3 linked regions of the Homo sapiens genome follow. The protein of the gene in region 1 purifies or fractionates together with the protein of each later gene. This does not show direct contact. Each region holds a gene or a part of one and is shown on either strand. Other genes may lie near its edges. The genes, in order: PIPOX, NAPG and ZNF217.

Region 1 (7,265 bases):
GCATTAGCTGCCTCTGAATAAATCTGTAATTAGCTGCCCTGGCTGATTTGCATAATGGATTTCACTTTGTTCTTAAGTTAATGGTATTTTTGCAACAGAACACTAACCTCTTGGTTCCTGGCCATTAAAATAACCACCACCCTATCAGGTAGAGCCAGGGTTTGTAGGAAGTTCAGTTAAGAGTCACAGAGGAGGTGGGAGGGAGGTGGGATGGTTAAAGTTCCCATTGCATCACAGATTATTGGCTTTCTTTCCCATGAGTGTTTGAAAGGTCAAGGGTTGGAGAGAGCCATGAAGGCAGCAGAGAAAGACGTGGAGGCTCACTCCCTGGCAAGCAATCCAGCCTGGGGAACGTCCCCATTTTGTTCCTACAGGAAAAGGTACTCAGAGAGAACAAAATGGGTTTATAGGGCTGCTAAAGGGGGTGAGGACCCCTCAGGAAAAGTTAGGATGTTGATTTGACTATAAAGAATCCTGGGCCAGGCACGGTGGCTCACACCTGTAATCCCAGTACTTAGGGGGGCCGAGAAGGGCAGATCATGAGGTCGAGAGATCAAGACCATCCTGGCCAACATGGTGAAACCCTGTCTCTACTAAAAATACAAAAATTAGCTGGGTGTGGTGGTGCGCACCTGTAGTCCCAGCTGCCCGGGAGGCTGAAGCAGAAGAATCACTTGAACCCGGGAGGTGGAGGTTGCAGTGAGCCAAGATGGCGCCACTACACTCCAGCCTGACAAAAAAGCGAGACTCTGTCAAAAAAAAAAAAAAAAAAAAAAAAAAAAGAATCCTCCTGAAAGCAGCCTCCTCCTCTATCTCAACCCCTGCCCTAAAAGAGTTGCAGAGGCCTCCACAGAGTTGAAAATACACACTCCAGCAGACTCCTGTCCACTCTGGGCATCTGCCACACGGTGCCTTGCCAGCAGGCTTTCCAGTACTGCTTCTGCTAGCCTTGGACACATGGTCTGAACCCAGTCCTGCAACGCAGAGCCTGGCCAGAGTCAGCTGGACCTGTGGGGTGACCACCATGACAGCAGAACTCTTCCATGCATCTGGTACTTCTTGAGGCCTTGTGTCCCTCCCATTGCATTCCAAATGTTCCATGGCGCTGCCACTTCACACACTAAAAGTACCTGCAGGTGCAGAGCCCCACGATTCAAGGAATTCCTCCCACAGCCCACCTGTGCAATTGGGTTCCAGCCTCGTGCTCCAGCTGGGCCCATATCTGATAGCACTCATGCATCATCCGGGTGTAAAAGTCTTCCAGGTACGCCTTTCGGATTATCCGGCTTTGTCCATGGGAGCTTCCTCGGGAGTGTGGTAGAAAGAACTGGAAGTGGAAAACAAGAGAGATGATGGAAGCCATTACCCCTCACACTGCATCCCCTGTTAAGAGCCATATCAGCATGTGCTGTCAACCAGGAGCCATTTATCCTTCAAATATTTCCACACAATCTGGGGAAGGATTATGCACAGGAAGATAATTTGAGCCCAGGAATTCAAGACCAGCTTAGGCAATATAGCAAGACCCAGTCTTCTCAAAAATTTAAAAACTATCAGGTGTGGTGGCACTTGTAGTCCCAGCTACTTGGAAGGCTGAGGTAGGAGGACTGTTTGAGCCCAGGAGTTTGAGGCTGTAGTGAACTATGATAGTACCACTGCACTCCAGCCCGTGCAATAGAGTGAGATCCTGTCCCCCCACAAAAAAAAATTCACACAATCTTTCCAAATTCTCTCTTTATGACCAATTTACTGACTTGGCAATCAAGATAGAAGTTCTTCAATAGCACTAACTTAGGCTTCCTTTTTGCTAACGTTGTTCACATCCAGAAGTTCTTTTGTTAGCTAGTCTTCAACCATCCTGCTGCAATCTCACCTCACTTAGATTCACAAAGAAGCAAAATTAGAAAAAACCTTCCAGTTCAACTACTCCAGCCCCTTCATTTTATGAACAAGGAAACTGATGCTGACTTTATTTCTCTGTGGCTACAGATCACTCAGGGTAAGAGAACCACCTCAGGATTCAGCAACAATGAGTTTCCTGAGAGGATGAACCAGGAATCCCTTGGGCTTTGAGAAAACTGATAGAGAAATGAAGAAGGTTTCTAACTACTCTGGCTCATTACCAAGAAGAGCAAACCATAGCCAGCCTGGGTAGCTGCAGGCAGAATGGAAAGGGAGAGTCCACTGCAGTGGATAGCTGGGTGGCCCTGTCCTCGAAGGACCCTGCAGACACACAGGGCCCACCCACATATGCAGTGGTCACTGCAGACTGCACTGCGTAGCAGGAAAAATAAGGCCTCAGTCTCACTTATCATGTGTCAAACAAGGAGGCTGCTATTATCTGGAGGTGGCAAAAAATAAAAAATAAAAAAAAAAAACAGAAGCTTCTGCTGGGTTCTGGTGTGAGAGGCCAGGAATATGCAAGACAGAATCCTACCTCTTAGGCTGATAAATCAACCTTTGCCTCTAGGCAAAATTATCTTTACTTTAGGTTACCTAGAGCAGAACCAATTATTTTTCTGGGGTGGGGATCAACCATTTGGGCACAGAAGGGAAAGAGTAGTGAGAAGGAAGAGAACAGGGCCTAGGACGCTTGGTCAAGGGCAGGAACTGGGAAGCAGTAGAAAGAGGAAATGTGCCTAGAAACCCAATGTGGGTATGAGGGATGTGAAACTTCTTTGAATTGCCATGAAACACACTAGGCAGCTAAGATACAAATTACACAGAATTTTTGATGATTCAGTCCCTTTGGCCTTGCCCTGTAGCCTGCTGGCTCTGAAAACCCTTCTGCAGGGGAGGAGGGTAGGACAGTCCTTACAGCTGGGGGTGCAGAAGGGACACAGTACCTGCTCCAGCAGGAGGATCCTCTTCCTGTGTTTGGCCAGGTGGTATGCAGTGAAGCAGCCCTGGATCCCCGCCCCAATCACAATGGCGTCCCAGAGATCTTTCTGAGCCGCCATGATGCCACTCAGCCCCACAGCCACAGAGCCTCAAAGGCAAAGGCAAGCAAAGACAGGCTCCCGGCTAAAGGACGAGGAGGAAGGCAAAGTCCAGCCTGGCCAGTGTTCCCACAATGCCCTGGGGTCGTGTCCTCCCGCTTCCCTCTCTGCCAAGCCTGGCCCAGGGCTCAGTCTCCCTTCCCCTGCGGAGCAGAGCTGGGTAGTCTGATTTGTGAGGTTTAGCCCAGCTCAGCCGCCAGCCTCACCCTTGCATCCCTGTGGCTTTCTATTCTTGGCTCAATTATTGTCATGCAAATGGGCTCCTTCCTTTGCCACCTTCCTGTCTCATTATGATCTTTGTCTCAGGACTTCGGCCCTGGAATTTCAATGCCTCCTAGACCATACTGGGCACCGGGAATGCTGCCTCCCCCTGCTGGTTTTCCCCTCTTCAGCCTGATTTGCTTTAGAGATTCTAGAGGGCCCCGCTAAGAACTTGGCACGATGCCCAGAATAAGACCCACCTCCCTGGTGGGTGGTGAGGTCAGGGGGTAGAGGCAGGGGCCAATTGGGAGGGCAGTTTTGTAATTATGAAATTATTCCCAGCATGTTTTACTTTCATTTTGAAGAAAGAAGAAATGATCCTGAAAAGACAGAAAGGGCAGAGTGAGAGGAGGAGCCCTCTCCTCAGCCACAGAGAGGGGACCAGGCCAGCCCAGTGCCTGGAGGGGCCCCGTGTTGAGCATCTCTCTGTCCCAGGCAGTATGCTTAGTAAGTACTGATACTGGCATTTGGGTAGGGCTTGATTGTCATACAGTTCGAGGGTACTCTTTGAGAAAAAGAAAAAAGGAGAATTATTAATACAAAATTAGATGCCCGGATGTGGAAGAAACTGTTCAATTAAGGACCCCCATGGTTGAAGTTTCATTTGCTTCATGGTAAATTTGCCTCTGCATGAGTTATCTCATTTACTCCTCATAGCCCTAGGAGTTTCTGCGGGTTTTTGTTTTTGAAGTTTTGGTTTTTGAGAGGATCTCTGGGATCTCACTGTCACGCAGGCTGGAGTGCAGTGGCACGAACTCGGCTCACTGTAGCCTCCACTTCCTGGGCTCAAGGGGTCCTCCTACCTCAGCCGCCCGAGTAGCTGAAACTACAAACGCATGCCACCATGCTCAGCTAATTTTGTTTATTTTTTGTAGAGACGAGGGCTCACTGTGTTGCTCAGGCTGGTCTCGAACTCCTGGACTCATACAATCCTCCCACCTCATCCTCCCAAAAGCTTGGATTACAGGTGTGAGACACTGCACCTGGCTTAGGAGTATTTTTATGCCTACTTTTGGCAGATTAAGGATGGCCCCAAATTCTTTTTCACTCCTTCTATCACAGACTCTGTGACTGCTTGACCCATAAAATATGGCAAAAGTGATACCATGACACTTTCTGGCACAGCCCTAAAGAGACTGGCAGCTTCCTCTTCTTATGTTGGAGCCCTTACTTTTTTTTTTTTTTTGAGAGGGAGTCTCGTTTTGTCATCCAGGCAGGAGAGCAGTGGCACTATCTTGGCTCACTGCAACCTCTGACTCGTGGGTTCAAGCGATTCTTCTGCCTCAGCTTCCCGAGTAGCTGGGCCTACAGGCGAGCGCCACTACACCCAGCTAATTTTTCATATTTTTAGTAGAGACGGGGTTTCACCATATTGGCCAGGCTGGTCTCGAACTCCTGACCTCATGATCCGACCACCTCGGCCTCCCAAAGTGCTGGGGTTACAGGCATGAGCCACCGCACCTGGCCAAGGAGCCCTTACTCTCTGAGCCCTGAGCCACCATGTTAGAAGTGCAGGCACCCTATGGGAGAGTTCACATGGAGAGGACCTGGGACCAGGTGGAGAACTCTATATAAGAATGAAGTTATCTTGGTTTGGGAGGCTGAGTCAGGAAGGATCGCTTGAGGCCAGGAGTTCCAGACAAACCTGTGCAACATAGCAAGACCTTGTCTCAAAGAAAAGTGAAGTCATCTTGGTTCCTCCAGCCCAGCCTAGCACCAGCCAAATAGTACCAAGTGACCCAATTGATGCTGCATAGTGCAGAAGAATCACCCAGTCAAGCTTCATTCCTGATCCACAAAACCATGAAACAGAATAAAATGGTTGTTGTTTTCAGCCACAACATTTTGGGGAGGTTTTTTACACAGCCATAACCAAAATATTACTTAATGGCTGAAGACGTGAAGGCTTAGAGAGATTCTATCTTACCCAAAGCAACACCCCTGGTATACAAAGACACTGAGGCTGGGCACAGTGGCTCACGTCTGTAATCCCAACACTTTGAGAGGCCGAGGCGGGAGAATCACTTGAGGCCAGAAGTTTGAGACCAGTCTGGGCAACATAGCAAGACCGCATCTCTACAAAAAATGTTAAAAATTAGCCAGGGATGGTGGTGCATGCCTGTAGTCTTACTTACTTGGGAGGCTGAGGCAGGAGGGTCACTTGAGCCCAGGAGTTTGAGGCTGCAGTGAGCTATAATCACACCATTGTACTCCAGCCTGGGCAATGGAGCAAGATTCCAGCTCTATGGAAAAAAAAAAAAAAAAAAGAAAGAAAGAAAAGAAAGACACTGAACTGTGAACCTAGGTCTGTCTGCCCCAGAATCCGTTCCTTTAACCACTGTGCTTTACTGAGGATGAGTCAGAACTTGTAATGATGATTCCGATTTCAATATTTTGCTATTTCTCCCACAATGAGTGGGAGAAAATAATGGTCCAGGAAACCCACATGACTACAGGGAGCTGCCCTGCCTCCTTACAGTGGCCTGCCAAGGCCGCCAGCAATGCTTCTCATTCCACAAGTAATCCCCCAGACTGATCTTGGCAACTGGCTGTCCTCTCAGCCTAGCCCTTTTGTTCTTAGGAAAACAGGAGCCCAGAGAGGAGGTGCCATCGGACTGGATTTTTCTTTATCTTTTTTTTTTTTTTCCTGTTACAGGATTTCAGTCTGTCACCCAGGCTGGAGTGCAGTGGTGTGATCATAGCTCACTGCAGTCTCAAATTCCCAGGCTCTGCTGATCCTCCCACCTCAGCCCCCTGAGTAGCTGGGACCACAGGAGTGCACTACCACGCCCAGCTTATTTTTTGTAGAGACAAGAGTTTTGCCATGCTGCCCAGGCTGGTCTCAAACTCCTGGGCTCAAGCAATCTGCCCACGTAGGCCTCTCAAAGTGCTGGGACTGGCTGGGTGCGATGGCTCACGCCTGTTATCTTATCACTTTGGGAGGTCGAGGTGGGAGGATCTTTAGAGGCAAGGAGTTCAAGACCATCCTGGCCAACATGGCGAAACCCTGTCTCTACTTAAAAATACAAAAATTGGCTGGGTGTGGTAGTGCAGGCCTGTAATCCCACCTACTCAGGTGGCTGAGGCAAGACAATCCCTTGAACCCGGGAGGCGGAGGTTGCAGTGAACCGAGATTGTGCCACTGTACTCCAGCCTGGGCGACAGAGCAAGCCTGCCTAAAAAAAAAAAAAAAAAAAAAAAAAGTGCTAGGTTACAAGCAAAACCTACCATGCTTGGCTTTTTTTTCTTCTAAAAAAAAAAAACCCCAGAATATATATATATATATATATATATATATATATATATATATATGTATGTATATTTCAAGAGTCCAGAAATCCTCACAACTCCATATGCCACTCCCACCCCCCGGAACAGGCCAGCATCCACATCACAACTGGACAGCTCCCCAGAATAAAAAATGGCTGACATAACCGAGAAAAATGTACTATCTGAGTATGTAAAGGCTTGATATAAATATATAAGATCAGCCCCCAGATTTCTCTTGATAAGATGTCAGAGGAGATGAACAGTTTACGTACAAGGAAAAGCAGACAATAAATCCTCACATGGAAGTGTGCCCAGTCTCACTAGCAATGAAAGAAATGGGAATTAAATAACTTCAAGGTACTATTATGTGCCTATTAAATTAGCAAAAATAAATAAAAATGACAATCTCTTATGTTGTCAGTGCTGTGGGGACAGAGATAGAGGAGGGTGGCAATTTGGGTTGTCAGGATCTCCTGGAGGTGGCTGAGGCAATACACAGCAATCCGGGTAAAACAGCTCAAACCTTCTGACCTAGAAATTCAACCTGGGGAACCATATCCCAAGGGGAGACAAAGGTATGAAGATATTGATATCTGTGCTTTTACAATATAAAAAAATGGGAAATAACTCAACCACAAGGAATGGCTGAACAAGCTCTGGCTCGCTGGCACAATGGAATACTACGTAGCTATTCCAAATAACAAGCTGGACTCTGCTATGCAGAAATGTGTGTAT
Region 2 (7,109 bases), on another chromosome or scaffold:
AGGTCAAAAGGACTAACAGGTATGGCTGCTAAACCCAAATTAGCTGTATATCTTTCTTCCTTATTAGTGGTGTTCATGTGACTTGGGATGGTTTGCCCAGTTTTAAACTCTCTGGGTCTTTCCGTGTATAGCACATTAGGTGACGGAGTGATTGTATCTTGTTTTTAGTGGGATTAAAAAAATTATGTTAATATACAGAATGTAATGTTTGTTATGGGATAGGAACAGAGGGTTAGCATTTTGCATATTGCATATTTCCTCAATTTTGTAGATTTGAGTAGACACACCACAATTTAAGGATATTATTTTTCTGAACAGTGAAATTCTTGGTAAGCTTGAAAAATTGCTTATTTTAATTTGAATCTTGTAACACTATATACACAAACAAGTTTTAGATGCTAAATATGTTGAATAAATTTAATTGGCAAAAAATGTTACTGTAGCTGGCTGGGTACAGTGGCTCATGCCGGTAATTCTAGCTCTTTGGGAGGCCAAGGTGGGCGGATCACTTGAGGCCAGGAGTTCGAGACCACCTGGCCAACATGGCGAAACCTCTTCTCTACTAAAAATACAAAAATTAGCTGAGTGTGGTGGCACAAGCCTGTAATCCCGGCTACTGAGGAGGCTGAGGCACGAGAGTCACTTGAACCTGGGAGGCGGAAGTTGCAGTGAGCCGAGATAATACCACTGCACTCCAGCCTGGGTGACAGAGCGAGACCCTATCTCAAGAAAAAAAAAGAAGCTATGACTTTGTGGCAGTTCCCATGGCTGTCACATAATGAAGGCTGTACTTCTGAGTGCTCATACAGATGCCTCATCTTTCAGTTAAGATACTCCCCTGAGTCATTTGAAGCAAGCAGTGTTCTGTGCAAGCAGGCCTTCACTAATTGAATGACATTTAGAATTTACGATGGTTTGGGCAATTTCTATGCACACCCAAATTTGACAGTTACTGAATTAGTTTAAACTAAGTCTGAAATTATTTTAAAATAAGAAAATAAATATTGAGGAAAAGGCAAGTAAGTTAAGGATTCAAAATTGATTGTCCTTTGGTTTGGCATCCAAGAAGCCAGTAGTGATCCTAGAAAGCAGTTTCTCTTGGCTTTTGTAATATCCTTCCCTTTCTGATTATCCTTCTTGTTTATGGGTGGCGAGTTTTCACTTTTTTTTTTTTTTTTTTTTTTTTTTTTTGCCTACTTCCTCTGTTGTTTCACTGAATGATTGTATTCCTTAGTCTTTCTGTTCTCTCTCTGCAGTCTCACTAGGGGATCTGATCTCATCTATGCTCTTGACATATGCTTATGATGCCTCCATTTATGTCTCTAGACTCTTGTCTGTGCGTCAGTTTCATGAATCCCTCTGCTGTCGATACTGTGCTTCAGAGGTTCTAAAGCTTTAATGCACCTTTGAGCTCGTTAAACCTCAGAGGTGCTGTAGGCTTGGGATGGGGTCAACAATTTACGATTTTAGTAAGTTCCCAGTTAGTGCTGATGGTGCTGGTCCAGGGACCATGAATTGAGAACCTCTAGGAGGAAAACCACGTACCTGTGACAGTGGGAGTGAAAGAGGTGAGGTTGTGTTTGTTAGGCCTAAGTTTGGATGGAGGCGGGTGACACAGAGTTTGTGCCTGATGGTTTCTCCTTTTTTTTTTTTTTTTTAAAGACCTAGAAGGTCATTACAAGCAGAGATCTGACTTATAAATGTGGTTGGTAACTCCTGTTAACTGTGTTTTTTTCATTCTAGCCTGAAAACTGGTTTTTTAAAATGGAAGCCAGATTATGACAGTGCCGCTTCTGAATATGGAAAAGCAGGTATTTTTGACTATAGTCCAGTTGCTCCAGTATGTAATCTTAAAATAGTCTGATAACTTCATTTCACCATAATACTTACTCATATGCTTTCTATAAGGCTTTAATAGTTAAAAAACAAACAAAACAACTGTGCAAGCCCTTGAGTTTTTTTCCACTTGTTATTTTCAGATGTGTTGAGAGCTGAGTCAGAGTTCCTGGTACCTGCTGTCTATGACAGCAGGGATGGGGCGGGGTTGGTGATACACAGTAGTGGGTTTTTAGCGTTGCTTATATATTCTTTAACTCCAGTTATTTGAATACCATATCCATGAGTTTTGCCATATTTCTCTATTATACTTTCTATTGAATTAGGAGTTTGTTAAATTTTTTGTTAACTTAGCCTCATCTTAACCTGATACGCAAATCATATGTTTGCTTGGTATTTTATGTCTTTTATGAACCTCACTTTGAGTGTATCTGTTCAGTGTTCATGAAGTGTTAAGCTATATACATATTTTAATCAATTTATCTTTATATAAGATATAAACAATCTAAAATATGCAACAGAAAGGGAATTTACTAAAAATGTAGCATTCTGAATTACAGAATGATAGCTTTAAGCATACCTGTGATAATTTGCAGTATAAATATAACAAAATTTTGAAGTACCTTGAACACATTTTCAGTTGTATTTCAGCGATAGCCCTTATCACATTTGTTAGCCTAGCATAGAGATCATCTGGGGCAAGTGCTTTTGGTTAAACAGCAAATGAGTCTTCAGTACTTTTATTTAAATCTGAGTAAATTCTGTTTTTTTGCATCATGCAAATTGTTTATCTTATACTTGAAAATTATTAAAAGTTCAAACTTTGTATGAATTTTGTGGACTACTCATGCAAGGAGGCTTCTGTAGCAGAAGGGAACAACATTTTGCAAGTTTCCTCTGTGAGGGAAATTTAACACAGATTTGTTTTCTGCCCCTCTGAGATCATGAATTACATTCAAAAATAAATGTTTTAGATGAAATTTTCCCCCTGAAGCATCCTTTGTTTATTTTCTTTAAGGGCTTATGGAAAACCTATTTAATCAGAATAAATTTTTTAAAAAGCAACATATGGAAAAGCAGGGAGGGGAATAGCTTCAGTATTTGGTTTTCACATTTTATTAAAGAGAATTTTAAGAGTGTTTTTAACAAATAGCACTTTTCTTAAAGCATTATGCTTTTTGCTTCTTTGTAAGCAACCCTTGATAAGTTTTCCAAAATTTGTAAGATCATATGTTATAAGCACTCCTGTTTTGTTTTGATGATTACACTTTTAAAACAGCTTTCAGTATGCTTTAGCTGTTTGAACAGTGAGACATCTTTTTCATAGATAGTAAACAGTATAAAAGATTGTTTTTTTAAAAAAATGCATTGTTAGACATTTAAAGATTGTGCCAAAAGGAAGGTTTATTATAAAAAACTGTTAAATGTGCTTATTGGCCCTCAGTTTCTACCTAATCGAATGACCTATACCCAAAATACCGTTTAAAGGTAAAACTGGTGAAGTAAGGTGCTGTCTTTTGTGACTGAAGAATCTGCCGGTTACTGGGGAGTATTGGGGAGTGTTGGTGTTAGAAAGACTTCTTGATTTTGAGTGGAAGAAACACTGATTTGTTGCCAGTAGTCAACAATTAAAAAAGAAAAAGTTTTAAAAATACTCGTAAGTTACCAATAATTGGAAAAGTTGTAAGGAAATTGCTTTAGAAAAAAGTAATATTTTATAGTTTTAGGATACTTCCTAAGTATTTGAAGTAAGTATGTTTATAATACTTCATATAAAATGCAGATTTCAGTAATGATTCATTTGAGGTTTTTAATGATGGAAATAGTCAATTTTTTTTTCTATTTCAGCTGTTGCTTTTAAAAATGCCAAACAGTTTGAGCAAGCAAAAGATGCCTGCCTGAGGGAAGCTGTTGCCCATGAAAATAATAGGGCGTATCTTTTTCAACTTTTAAAAAGAAATTAAACAATTAGATGATTTTGACAAGCTGTTTTCTCTTGCTGTAAATTTACTTTACTACCTGTGAAGTAAAATGTTTTTAAATTAGAAAATGATTAGAAAAATTCTGTATTTTTAAACTATGAAGGAGCGTTTATAATGAAGTTTGATTATAAGGTCCACACTGGTTCGCAGAGCTACAATACTTACTTTCTATTGTTTGTGATTTTACTTGATGATGGTTTTACTTGGGATGAAGTAAAGTAAATCTGTAGACATGTGCTGAAGAATGAAGAAGTAGCACAGGTATTGAAAACACGTGAACTACTGTATCAATTTTTTTAAATACAGTTTTCCTTAGGTATTTGAAATAAAAATTATAAGTAGTTTAAAACAGTACATTTTCTTGAGGTGTTTGCAAACTTATCAATAAAAAATGTTTCTCTTATTTGCAAACTGTAGTCATAATAACTTTGTACTTCAGTAAAACTTCAGATTATTGCGTAATAGAAATAGTTTAAAATCTGTGCAGTGTTTTGTTAGTGGTTTTGGGAATTATGTAGTTTTAAACTATATTGACAGGTATTGAATTACTTCTTTTTTACCTGTTTGTAGGATTTGTCTTTTGGAACCAACTGGGTCAGTGATTTAGTTAACTGTCTTTAAATAGTTGATCTATAGAAACTATTGATTTTTTTCTTTTTTCCTTAACTTTGACTTCGTTACTTCCATTCAGTCTTTTTCATGCTGCCAAGTAAGTATTCTTCATGTTTTCATGTATTTGCAAATTATGTTTTAAATGTTGCTGTTTTTCTGTAGGTTGGTAATTTTTTCCCAAATTATAAATTTTGTATTGATTTAAATAATAATCATTTCTCTTTGCTTCAGTTTTTACCTAAACCTTAAAAACCAAGACTTACTCCTAACTGTAAGATGTAAAGAGTTTAAATTAAATTTGCCATAATATTTTATTAGGAGCATTTTGTTCAGTAGCCTATGGGAAAAAAATAAGTTAGGATCTCTTTTTTCCTCTGTTTGATAGTTAATGGTGCCTGTGGAGATGAAGCAGGAAGCTTTCTCTTGCCTTGTGGAGAGTAGTTATTTGTTGGCCGAGGCAGGCGGATCACTTGAGGTCAGGAGTTCAAGACCAGCCTGGCCAACTTGGTGAAAAACCTCGTCTCTACTAAAAATACAAAAATTAACTGGATGTGGTGGCACGTGCCTGTAATCTCAGCTGTTGGGGAGGCTGAGGCAGGAGACTTGCTTGAACCTGGGAGATGGAGGTTGCAGTGAGCTGAGATCGTGCCTCTGCTCTCCAGCCTGGGCGACACAGCAAGGCTCCATCCCAAAAACAAACAAACAAACAAAAAAACTTAGGTTTAGGTTTGTCAGATGGAAATTAATTTAACCTTACTGAGCCTTACTTAATTTTGCATCTGCAAAATAAAATCTCTTTAACTCAAATGTCTGATGTTCTAAGCCATTATTCCCCACAAAAAAAGAATAAAAAATTATATTGTGTGGTAATATAAGCCTGAAGTGATATGTTGTGCATGAGCCCATTGTAATTGAAGTCACTTTCCTTACCAGTAGTTCCTCACCAGAAAGTTTCTTCTACCCCTTATTTCGTTAAGATCTCATCAGAGAAATTATATTCTCTTTGCAGAGCTTATGAGCAAGCTGGAATGATGTTGAAGGTCAGTAATGTTATGTCACAATTGTTGTGTAGGTAAAATGAATTAACTACAAGGTGTTAAACAAGAATTTTTGTTGAAGTTGAAAAGCTTCCTTACTGTAAGGCAAGAGGTGCTAAGTTAAGATTTTCTGTCCACGGTAACGTTAATTGGACCCATAGAATACATTCTGTACGTCTTAAGGAATGTTAAAAGTGAAATTTAAGAGAAAATGTATTGGAGTGAACTGGGAACACTAATGTTCTAAGCTCTATAACCAGGATAGATGTGTATTGCTATAAAAAGAGCTCTATGGGAAGTTTCTCTACTTTTGAGAAGGACATCTAAATGTAGTAAAATTTTATAAATATTAAAAAATTATCATACATGGGTTATAGAAGAGATTTTTACTTATGTGAATAACAGTTGGCAGCAGAAACAACCACAGATTTAAGCTTTTGCTACTTTAATTCATTCTGCATGGAATATTCCAACTAATGTACCTGTGCCACTGTTTGTACTTCTGCTCCTCAAAAGCAGGCCAGGAATTAATGTCCTGCTGTGGTGAGACAGAACATACTACTTTATGATGCTGACTTTCAAAGTATGCCAGCTGGCAGTTGAAATGAAGTATTTGTCTTTCTTTTTTAAAAATGTTTTTTTCTAAAATGGTAAAAGCTACTTTCAAGTATTTATTATAAAGCTTTGTTTTTAAGAACTTTTACCTTAGTAAAGCTTTTGTTTTTAATTTCTATGACTTTTATAATGTGAACTTACTCATTTTTTTAGTGAACACATGCTCATTGTAGACAATAAAAAATACCGAAAAGTTAAAGAATGTTAGTAATAGCTGTTAACATACTTAGTTTAAAAGATTTTATAGTCTTTGACCCAGGAATTTCAATTCTGTGAGTCTATCATCGAGAGAGAGAGATCAAAGATTTATGCATCAGGTTGTTTCTTGAAGAAATGCCAATTATCTAAATTTTGAATAATAGGAAAGTGAGGTTGGATGTAGTGGCTCATGCCTGTAATCCCAGCACTTTGGGAGGCCAACGTGGGTGGATTACCTGAGATCAGGAGTTCGAGACCAGCCTGGCCAACATGGTGAAACCCTGTCTCTTCTAAAAATACAAAAATTAGCTGGGCATGGTGGCGGGCGCCTGTAATCCCAGCTACTTGGGAGGCTGAGGCAGGAGAATTGCTTGAACCCAGGAGGCAGAGTTTGCAGTGAGCCGAGATCGTGCCATTGCACTCCAGCCTGGGCAACAGAGCGAGACTCTGTCTCAAAGTAATAATAATAATAGGAAAGTGTTTAAATAAATTATGATGCTTCCTTATTATAAACTATTATATATCCATTGAAATAAAGCTTTTCTGGCCAAACATGCAACTGAATTGGTATTTGGTGCCGCAAGTTAGGTTATTAACCACAGTTCCTTTGAAACCATAGAGTTTCTCTTACGGCCAAAGAAGCTGGGGATCTGCTCTGGTCTTCTTATGTCTCATTTTCCTCTGAGAATTAGGAAGCTCCCAGGTGGCTGTTACATTCTTAGTGTACTTCATGCCTGTTTAAGAAATGCTCAAACACTCTAATTCTCACAGCCTCAGTTTATATTACAACAGCTGTACTAAGACTTGAATCTTCATCAAAAGTTATTAT
Region 3 (7,109 bases), on another chromosome or scaffold:
TGCTTCTCTTTGGGGCTAACTTCAAGGTTATGGGTGGTACTGCCATCCGGAGGAGGAGTAACATCCGCCTTGGTTCTACAGATGAGGTTATTTGCCTGAGTTTCAACTGCTGATCTCTTTTTTAACAGGTCCAGGTAAGCAGGGGTAGGGTTTTTATTCACTTTATCAGCACTGTCATCAGCTGCATTTTTATGGAAATCCTGAGTATCTTTGTGTGCTGGTGAGAGGACAGCGCTGCCCAGAACATTCTGAAAAACAGAAGGCATCTCCTTAAGCTGCTTTGCAGGTGGACTGCCTGTAACATCTTTGGCACCATCAAAAAATCTTTTCAAATTTTTGGTTTGCGCACTGTCAGCGGTTAATAGTGCATCTTCAGTGTCCTGATTTTTACCATCGTTCTTGACTTCAGCAGCAACATCGGTTTGTTTTTCCTTGTGATGTCTCTCCAAGTGATACCTCAGAGATGTCTTCTGGGCTGCAGCATATTCACAAAATTCACATTTGTATGGTTTTTCACCTAAGGCAAGAAATGGCACTTTATTATAGAAGTGTATGAAAAGCACTGAAATAGATCAAATATCTATTTATTAAGAAAACAGGCTTCTTTCCTCCTTTTGCTTTCTCGATCTACTATCACATAGGATTTCTCATCAGTTCTTTATCATCCTTACTGTAATGAATATTTGAAATTATGAATGCCTATCTTCAATAGAAAAATTAACAGCAACACTTCTAACTTATTTAATCTTCCTAACAGCCCTAGGGAAATATGTATTATTCTACTTTTACAGCAAAGAAAACTAAAAGCACAAAAAGGTTAAATAACTTGCCCAAGGGTGCACAGATAGTAAGTGGAAGAGATGAAATTTCAAATCTACGCAGCCTCCTACATCATGATGTCATAGCTCCTTTCACAATCTCAAGACTACTAAATAGATTCTCATTTCATTCTCAATCATAAAGACATAAGATGCAGCATTTTAAAATACTGTAGCTTTTAATAAGATAAGAGTCAGGACATAGCAGTCATAAACTAAACAAATGAACTTTGTCCGGGCGCGGTGGCTCACGCCTGTAATCCCAGCACTATGGGAGGCCAACACTATGGGAGGCCAAGGTGAGCGGATCACTTGAGGTCAGGAGTTCGAAACCAGCCTGGCCAGCATGGTGAAACCCCATCTCTACTAAAAATACAGAAATTAGCCGGGTGTGGTGGCAGGTACCTGTAATCCCAACTACTGGGGAGGCTGAGGCAGGAGTATTGCTTGAACCAGGGAGGTGGAGGCTGCAGTGAGCCGAAATTGCACCACTGCACTCCAGCCGAGGTGACAGAGCAAGACTCCGTCTCAAAAAACAAAAAAGAAAGAAAAGAAATGAACTGCAAATAAGAACAATGGCTCAAGTTACAATGGCACTAAAAGAATAAAAATAACCACTGCAATCAACATGCTACATATTTATCCTTAAGCTAGTCCAAGGATCTGGCAGAGTATCTGAACAACAACAACAAAAAAATTAGATAACTACATAATTTAACTAATGCATGGTTAAAAAAATAAAAGTTCTTTACCTGTATGCGTTCTGAGATGAATATTGAGGTAATAATTTGAACGGAAAAACTTTCCACAATAACTACACTCTCTTGAAGATGTAAGATGTTTTATTTTTCCTCCATCATCATTTTTATCTTAAAGGAAAAACAAAAATATTTATATAAGAAGGTAGCTGAAGTACCTGAATAAGGCATGCTGACTTAAATATTCTTGACATAAACATTTTTGGAAAGCATGAAAAAATTCTTTTATATAACATCGGGTTAGAACAAAACGGCTAGACACACACCAAATGCTGTTGGAGGTTGTTTGAAGTTTTAGAGTGTTATAACATGATTTTGTTTTGTTTTTTTCTGGGTACAGCAGAGTACACTATTAAACATTCAGTTCTTCGTTTGCCTTAATCACAAGAAAGATCATTTCATAGACTGAATTGCCCGGGCAGCTTCCGGTTCTCAGTGTCTCTGAGCAGGCAGGATCTGGCAAACTGAAGGTGGACATACATACTGGCGGGAAAAATTATCTTCTTCAGAATAATTTAGAAAAATGAGCCAATTACAAACCGTCAACTTCCCAACCACCAGGGGAAAAATAAGCCGTTTAAGGTTAGGATTAAACAACTGACCACTAGAGGGCAGCAAGCACAACTTAATCTTCAACAGAAAAGAAAGTCTGGCATTGGGCAAGCACCTAGGAAAGTCTGTCAAAATTTAGCAAAGTTTTGGAAAGCAGGCTGTATTGTCCACAAACACTCATGTGGGCGAAAGAGATCTGACAAATGAAAACCTGTCCCCAAATGACAGTGTTTGGCTTTAGTTTCTGCAGGACAATAGGACAATGTGTCTCACGTGCATCAGGAGAAGTTAGAGTCCACTGGAAGGAGGACAGAACTTCAAACACACACCAGCCCTCCAAAAGACAATCAGAGGTGCTGCCGTTAAAATACCACCCCCAAAACACATGAATGTTTAAGTTTTAAATAAATGTCCCCTCACTGTAGATCATATCACTATCCACCTGTAAGACAGACACCCTTGATGATCTATATAGTGTCTAAAGAAAGAAAAAAAAATTTACTTGATCTTCTTAAGTCTTAAAAAAGCCAGGATGATAGTACAATATGATAAATCTAGACTACTAAGATAATATAAGTTTAGGAAAATCAATTCCCCAAATACAGAATGGCCAGCTTTTTTTTCTTACAATCATACCCAAACTAGCTGGGTTTATAACTGGGCGTTGTTGCAATTTCCGACTCCCAACTATGTGTCAGGATTTATGGTATGTTGCGTCATATCCAAAAAGCTATGAAATGCCTTTTCTTTAGAACAAAGGACATGACATTTCCACATCTACCTGGTTCCTGCTCTTTCAAGCATCACCTCTGACTTTACAGTTATATTTTTTAAAGGACTGTGATCTTTTTACAAATAGGCTGTTGAAATTGTCCTTGGGAGGTGGAAGACAGGGGTCAATGAACCATTTTGCAAACAGGGAAATAGTAGCAAAGAAAGGTTAAGCAACTCATAATTGGTCACAAAACAACGCAGTGGTAGAACCAGAACTCAACGCCAAGCTGGGGTGCTCCCACCCACAGCCAGGCATTCTGTCCTGCCTGATGATCTAGCCCATGTTTTCCACACCACCTACCGGTAACTGGCCTTTTCATTTCTTTCAGGGAACTGGGGCATCTCACAGGGCCCCTGCAACAGTACCGGCACTAGCAGAAACCACTTAGCTAACTGGAGTCTGTGTTTAAAGCCTCTTTTTATGATGCCATTAAGACATTAGATTTGTAGTATGCTAAGTGCTGGGTTTCCTGTGTCCCAGGAAACTCAAAAACATTCTAAAGATTTGATATACAGACTACAGTTCTCACGTCAATCACATGATCAGAAAAGGAACTGGCACTGGCTGAAGAGCAGGTGAAGGAAGAGTCCAATCAATCGTGTGGGCAAATTCATCGTGGGTCTCATACACCCAGTTTTCCGAAGAATTCAAGCACACAATCAAGTGACACTGAGAGGAGGAGGCACTTGTTTTAACCGAGGACCACTTTGACAGATGCTTCCCTAAGACCGATTCATGTTCCCATCATTCGCTTGTCAATTACGGCCTGCCCATCAGGGTCTTTTCAACTGTTTTAAGCAGCAAGATCCTCTATTCAAACAAAATACTAAACTCTGATAGGAGAAGCTCTGGCTACAGTGAGGATGGGCGCAACTCCAAACACAGGTGGAATCCTTTGCCCTAGATAACGCCCACCAGGGCTCAGGAATATTATGTGAGCATGCCTTCAGTGATCACCTTCTCTTTCTATAAATGCCACTAGTACACTGAAAATTCTGCTGAGCAAATGAGCCTTCTTAAAAATGTCTTCAGTGTGCTCACATTCCTTGTATTTTATGACAAATCATTTGGGTTCCTGAGGTACCTATAAATGGATACTAGCTTGCCAGACAGAAAGGACAAGGTTTTGGACAGCACCAAACGGCTGCCCAAATAATATTCCTGGCTCTAGTTGATCATCACTCCCAGTACCTTTTATGGCCACTAGAAATTCACTACAGAAAAAGATCAGGAACGCCAGAAAAACTTAAGTGAAGGCTAGGGTCTCTCAATGCTCAAACTATTGACATTTGGGACCAGATAATTCTTTGATGATGGGGCTGTCCTGTGCACTGTACCATGCTGAGCAGTGTCCCTGGCCTCTGCCCACTGGATGCCAGCAGGCACACCCACACACACAGTATGACAACCAAAATGCCTCCAGACATTGCCAGATACTGATTGGGAACAAAATCGCCCCAGTTAAGAAGCAGTGCATTTGGGCTGGATGCACAAGTTATTTTTTTTTTAAAGTGTGTTTTGTGAGCAAAACGATACACGTTTAAAAAATATATATATATTTTCAGAACAAGGAGACCTCTTAACTCAACCCTGTTATTACAGAAATGAGAAAATTAAGGCCCTGAGAGGTTAAATGACTTACACAGAGTGATACCAAAAAGAGCCTGGACTTGACTCTGGCTCTCCAAACCCCATTCCTGGCCAGCGTTGTCTGGAGATGGGAATAGAGAGGGGGAGACGGGGAGACAGACAGACACAGGCGGAACAGCACGGGACGGAGACAGGGCAGCTTACCCAGATGGATTCCTTCGGGAAGCCCATCCTCAGATCCGTCTTCAGAACCACCTTCCCCTCGATCCACGGCTCCATTTTCATCCAGAGGGGCGGCGAGGTCAGGAGAACACGTCCCCGGCTGCCTCCCGTCCACAGACATGGTGGGCGACTCCGCGCCGGCCCTCCGGTCCTTCTTGTGGACCCTGGAGTGCAAGACCAGCTGGTGGTAGGTTCTGAAAGCTTTGCCGCACTCGGAGCAGTGAGTGGGCTTCTCCTTGCTACTGGGTAACTTGGGATCCGCGTCCACGGAGGGCGCTTCGCCGTGGGAGTGTTTGCACTTCTCTTTCTCTTGCGAGAGGCCTGCACAACTGCCCTTATTTGTTTCTCCAAGCTCCTTCTCGGAACTCGAATCGTCGTTGTCGGTGCTCCCTTCTTGCCCCGATTCCTTCACTTCTTGGCAAATGGCAACTTTTCCTTTGGTAGCCAGCTGCCAAGCCTGGAAGGTGGTGAACGGATCGAGCTGAGGGATGCATCTGACAGGCTTCTTCCCCGTTTCAGGGTGAGATTTTGGTCTCAAGTTGAACAACTGCAGGAAGTCCTCCCTCGAGGACGGCATTCCTCCTTGTGGAGAGTCTGTCTGCGCGCTGCTGGTACCGAAAGCAGTTTTTTTGGTGTGCACCTTGCGGTGCTCAATTAGACTTTCTTTATTTGGAAATAGGAAGCCACAAACCATGCAGATTTTGTAAGGAGAGGAGATGCTCTCGGCCGCGTGCACCTGGACGACCTCGTTGATCGTTGCTGGACTACTCTCCAAGCCTTGCTGCAGTTTGCTTCTGGCCCCCGATTTGCCATTATGTGTCCGCATGTGATTTTTAAGAAACCAAGGCTCCTTGAATCTTCTTCCGCACATGTTACACCCGTAAGTGAAAGAATCTTTGTGTGTTCTCATGTGGATCTCAACATCAAAAGCGACTCTAAATGTCTGCCCACATACCTCACAGCTAAATTCATTTTCCTTGCAATTCTTTTCCTTGGGAGGTTCTGTTCGCACTTGACTTTTATCAAGCGGACTGAGATACTCTGCTTCAACCCGAAGAACTGCTGGTTCACAGAGGGTAGGCCGGTGTTGCATTAAGACATGTTTATTAAGGTCTTCTGAATGTGTGAAGGTCTGGCTGCAGAACATGCAATCCAAGGGCATATACCCCTCGATTTGGATGACATTTTTTTCTTGTGTAGCTCGGAATGGAACAACAGCGGTCCCTTTCATTGACAAGGCATCCTCCATCTCCATCGGACTGCCAAGAGAGCTGCCAATCACTTCTGGCCCATCCATGTACATTAAGAGGGATTGAGTTGGCATGTTTCCTGTCACTTTCGATTGCATATAATCTCAAAGTTCCGTTGGGCAATTTCTGGAGTTGGAATAAGGCCACTTGTAAGACTTGTCACTCACCCCTCTAACAGCCCTGGGTTCCAAAAACCAGAGCAAATATTTATTATAAAAGTTCAAAAGAAAGTGTATAGTCCTCTAACTTCTTCGAACTTTTAGGAAGCTCAGTGATGGTGTCACTGGTTCTTTCCACAAACAAGGCATACAGGGTTCCCAATGCCTCGATTCAAATATGAATCAGCACAAAGCATTAGTTCTCTTTGTCTCCATTGAATGAGTGTTTCAATTGAGCAAGAAGTCAATCCCAGCAACCTGGAGACAAGGGATTTCCAAACCCTAGAGGAAAAAAAACAGAAACGGTTAGCTACACTCAGAGCGAAGAGAAGGCTGGTGTGGGTGAGTCATACGGTCTTTTCCACGCAGCAGAGAAGGTACCTAATTCAATTGCTTCACTTTTAACTAATATATAGGGCATCCTGTTAAACGTGCTTGTTAATTAAATCATTGGCATTTTATCCAGTCAGTACACTTATTAAATCAGAATTTCATCCAGTTAAAATCCAGTTTAAATCAGTGCTTTACCGACTTAAATCTAAAATGTCAAGTTTTAGGTCAGAAATTGTTAAATTCAGCTGAATACATTTTAAATGCCACTAAAATGCACATGTGGATGCCATCAACAGCCTCCCTAAATCTAAAGACTATAAGAACTGTGAAAATTAAGATGAAAAAATTAAAACACTTTAGTAAACTATTTTAAATCCAGTGTATACAAAACAATTTAAAATTTGTTTCATATACAAACAAATCTGCATCCAAGAAATCTAAGTGCCCAAACACCCCCTTAGAGATTTTGCACATACAGAGGTCAACAAAATGAGCACAGAAATACAGAAACTTTTCCTAAAATCCCCATTCAAGAAATACTTAACACCTCAGAATGGTCACTCATCTTGGCCAGGGGAACCCTGATATATTTTGGTTCACTGGATATTCGAAACCTCAATCCACTGTTCAAATCCCAGCTTGCTTTCAACGAC

Evidence for each region.
Region 2: the proteins of PIPOX (region 1) and NAPG purify together in Homo sapiens (affinity purification with mass spectrometry; 3 studies listed by BioGRID and IntAct, with this or other methods). This does not show direct contact.
Region 3: the proteins of PIPOX (region 1) and ZNF217 purify together in Homo sapiens (affinity purification with mass spectrometry; 3 studies listed by BioGRID and IntAct, with this or other methods). This does not show direct contact.

What each region holds. Positions count from the first base shown.
Region 1 is NC_000017.11:29,038,921-29,046,185, reverse strand, and holds the start of PIPOX (peroxisomal sarcosine oxidase), read right to left. Parts: upstream 3,046-7,265; 5' UTR 2,961-3,045; coding exon 2,847-2,960; intron 1,328-2,846; coding exon 1,179-1,327; intron 1-1,178. UniProt on the Homo sapiens protein: Metabolizes sarcosine and L-pipecolic acid.
Region 2 is NC_000018.10:10,529,027-10,536,135, forward strand, and holds part of NAPG (gamma-soluble NSF attachment protein), read left to right. Parts: coding exon of another isoform or gene 1-19; intron 20-1,743; coding exon 1,744-1,811; intron 1,812-3,684; coding exon 3,685-3,769; intron 3,770-4,495; exon of another isoform or gene 4,496-4,509; coding exon 4,510-4,527; intron 4,528-5,439; coding exon 5,440-5,470; intron 5,471-7,109. UniProt on the Homo sapiens protein: Required for vesicular transport between the endoplasmic reticulum and the Golgi apparatus.
Region 3 is NC_000020.11:53,576,764-53,583,872, forward strand, and holds part of ZNF217 (zinc finger protein 217), read right to left. Parts: exon of another isoform or gene 7,004-7,109; intron 6,406-7,003; 5' UTR 6,064-6,405; coding exon 4,698-6,063; intron 1,688-4,697; coding exon 1,571-1,687; intron 518-1,570; coding exon 1-517.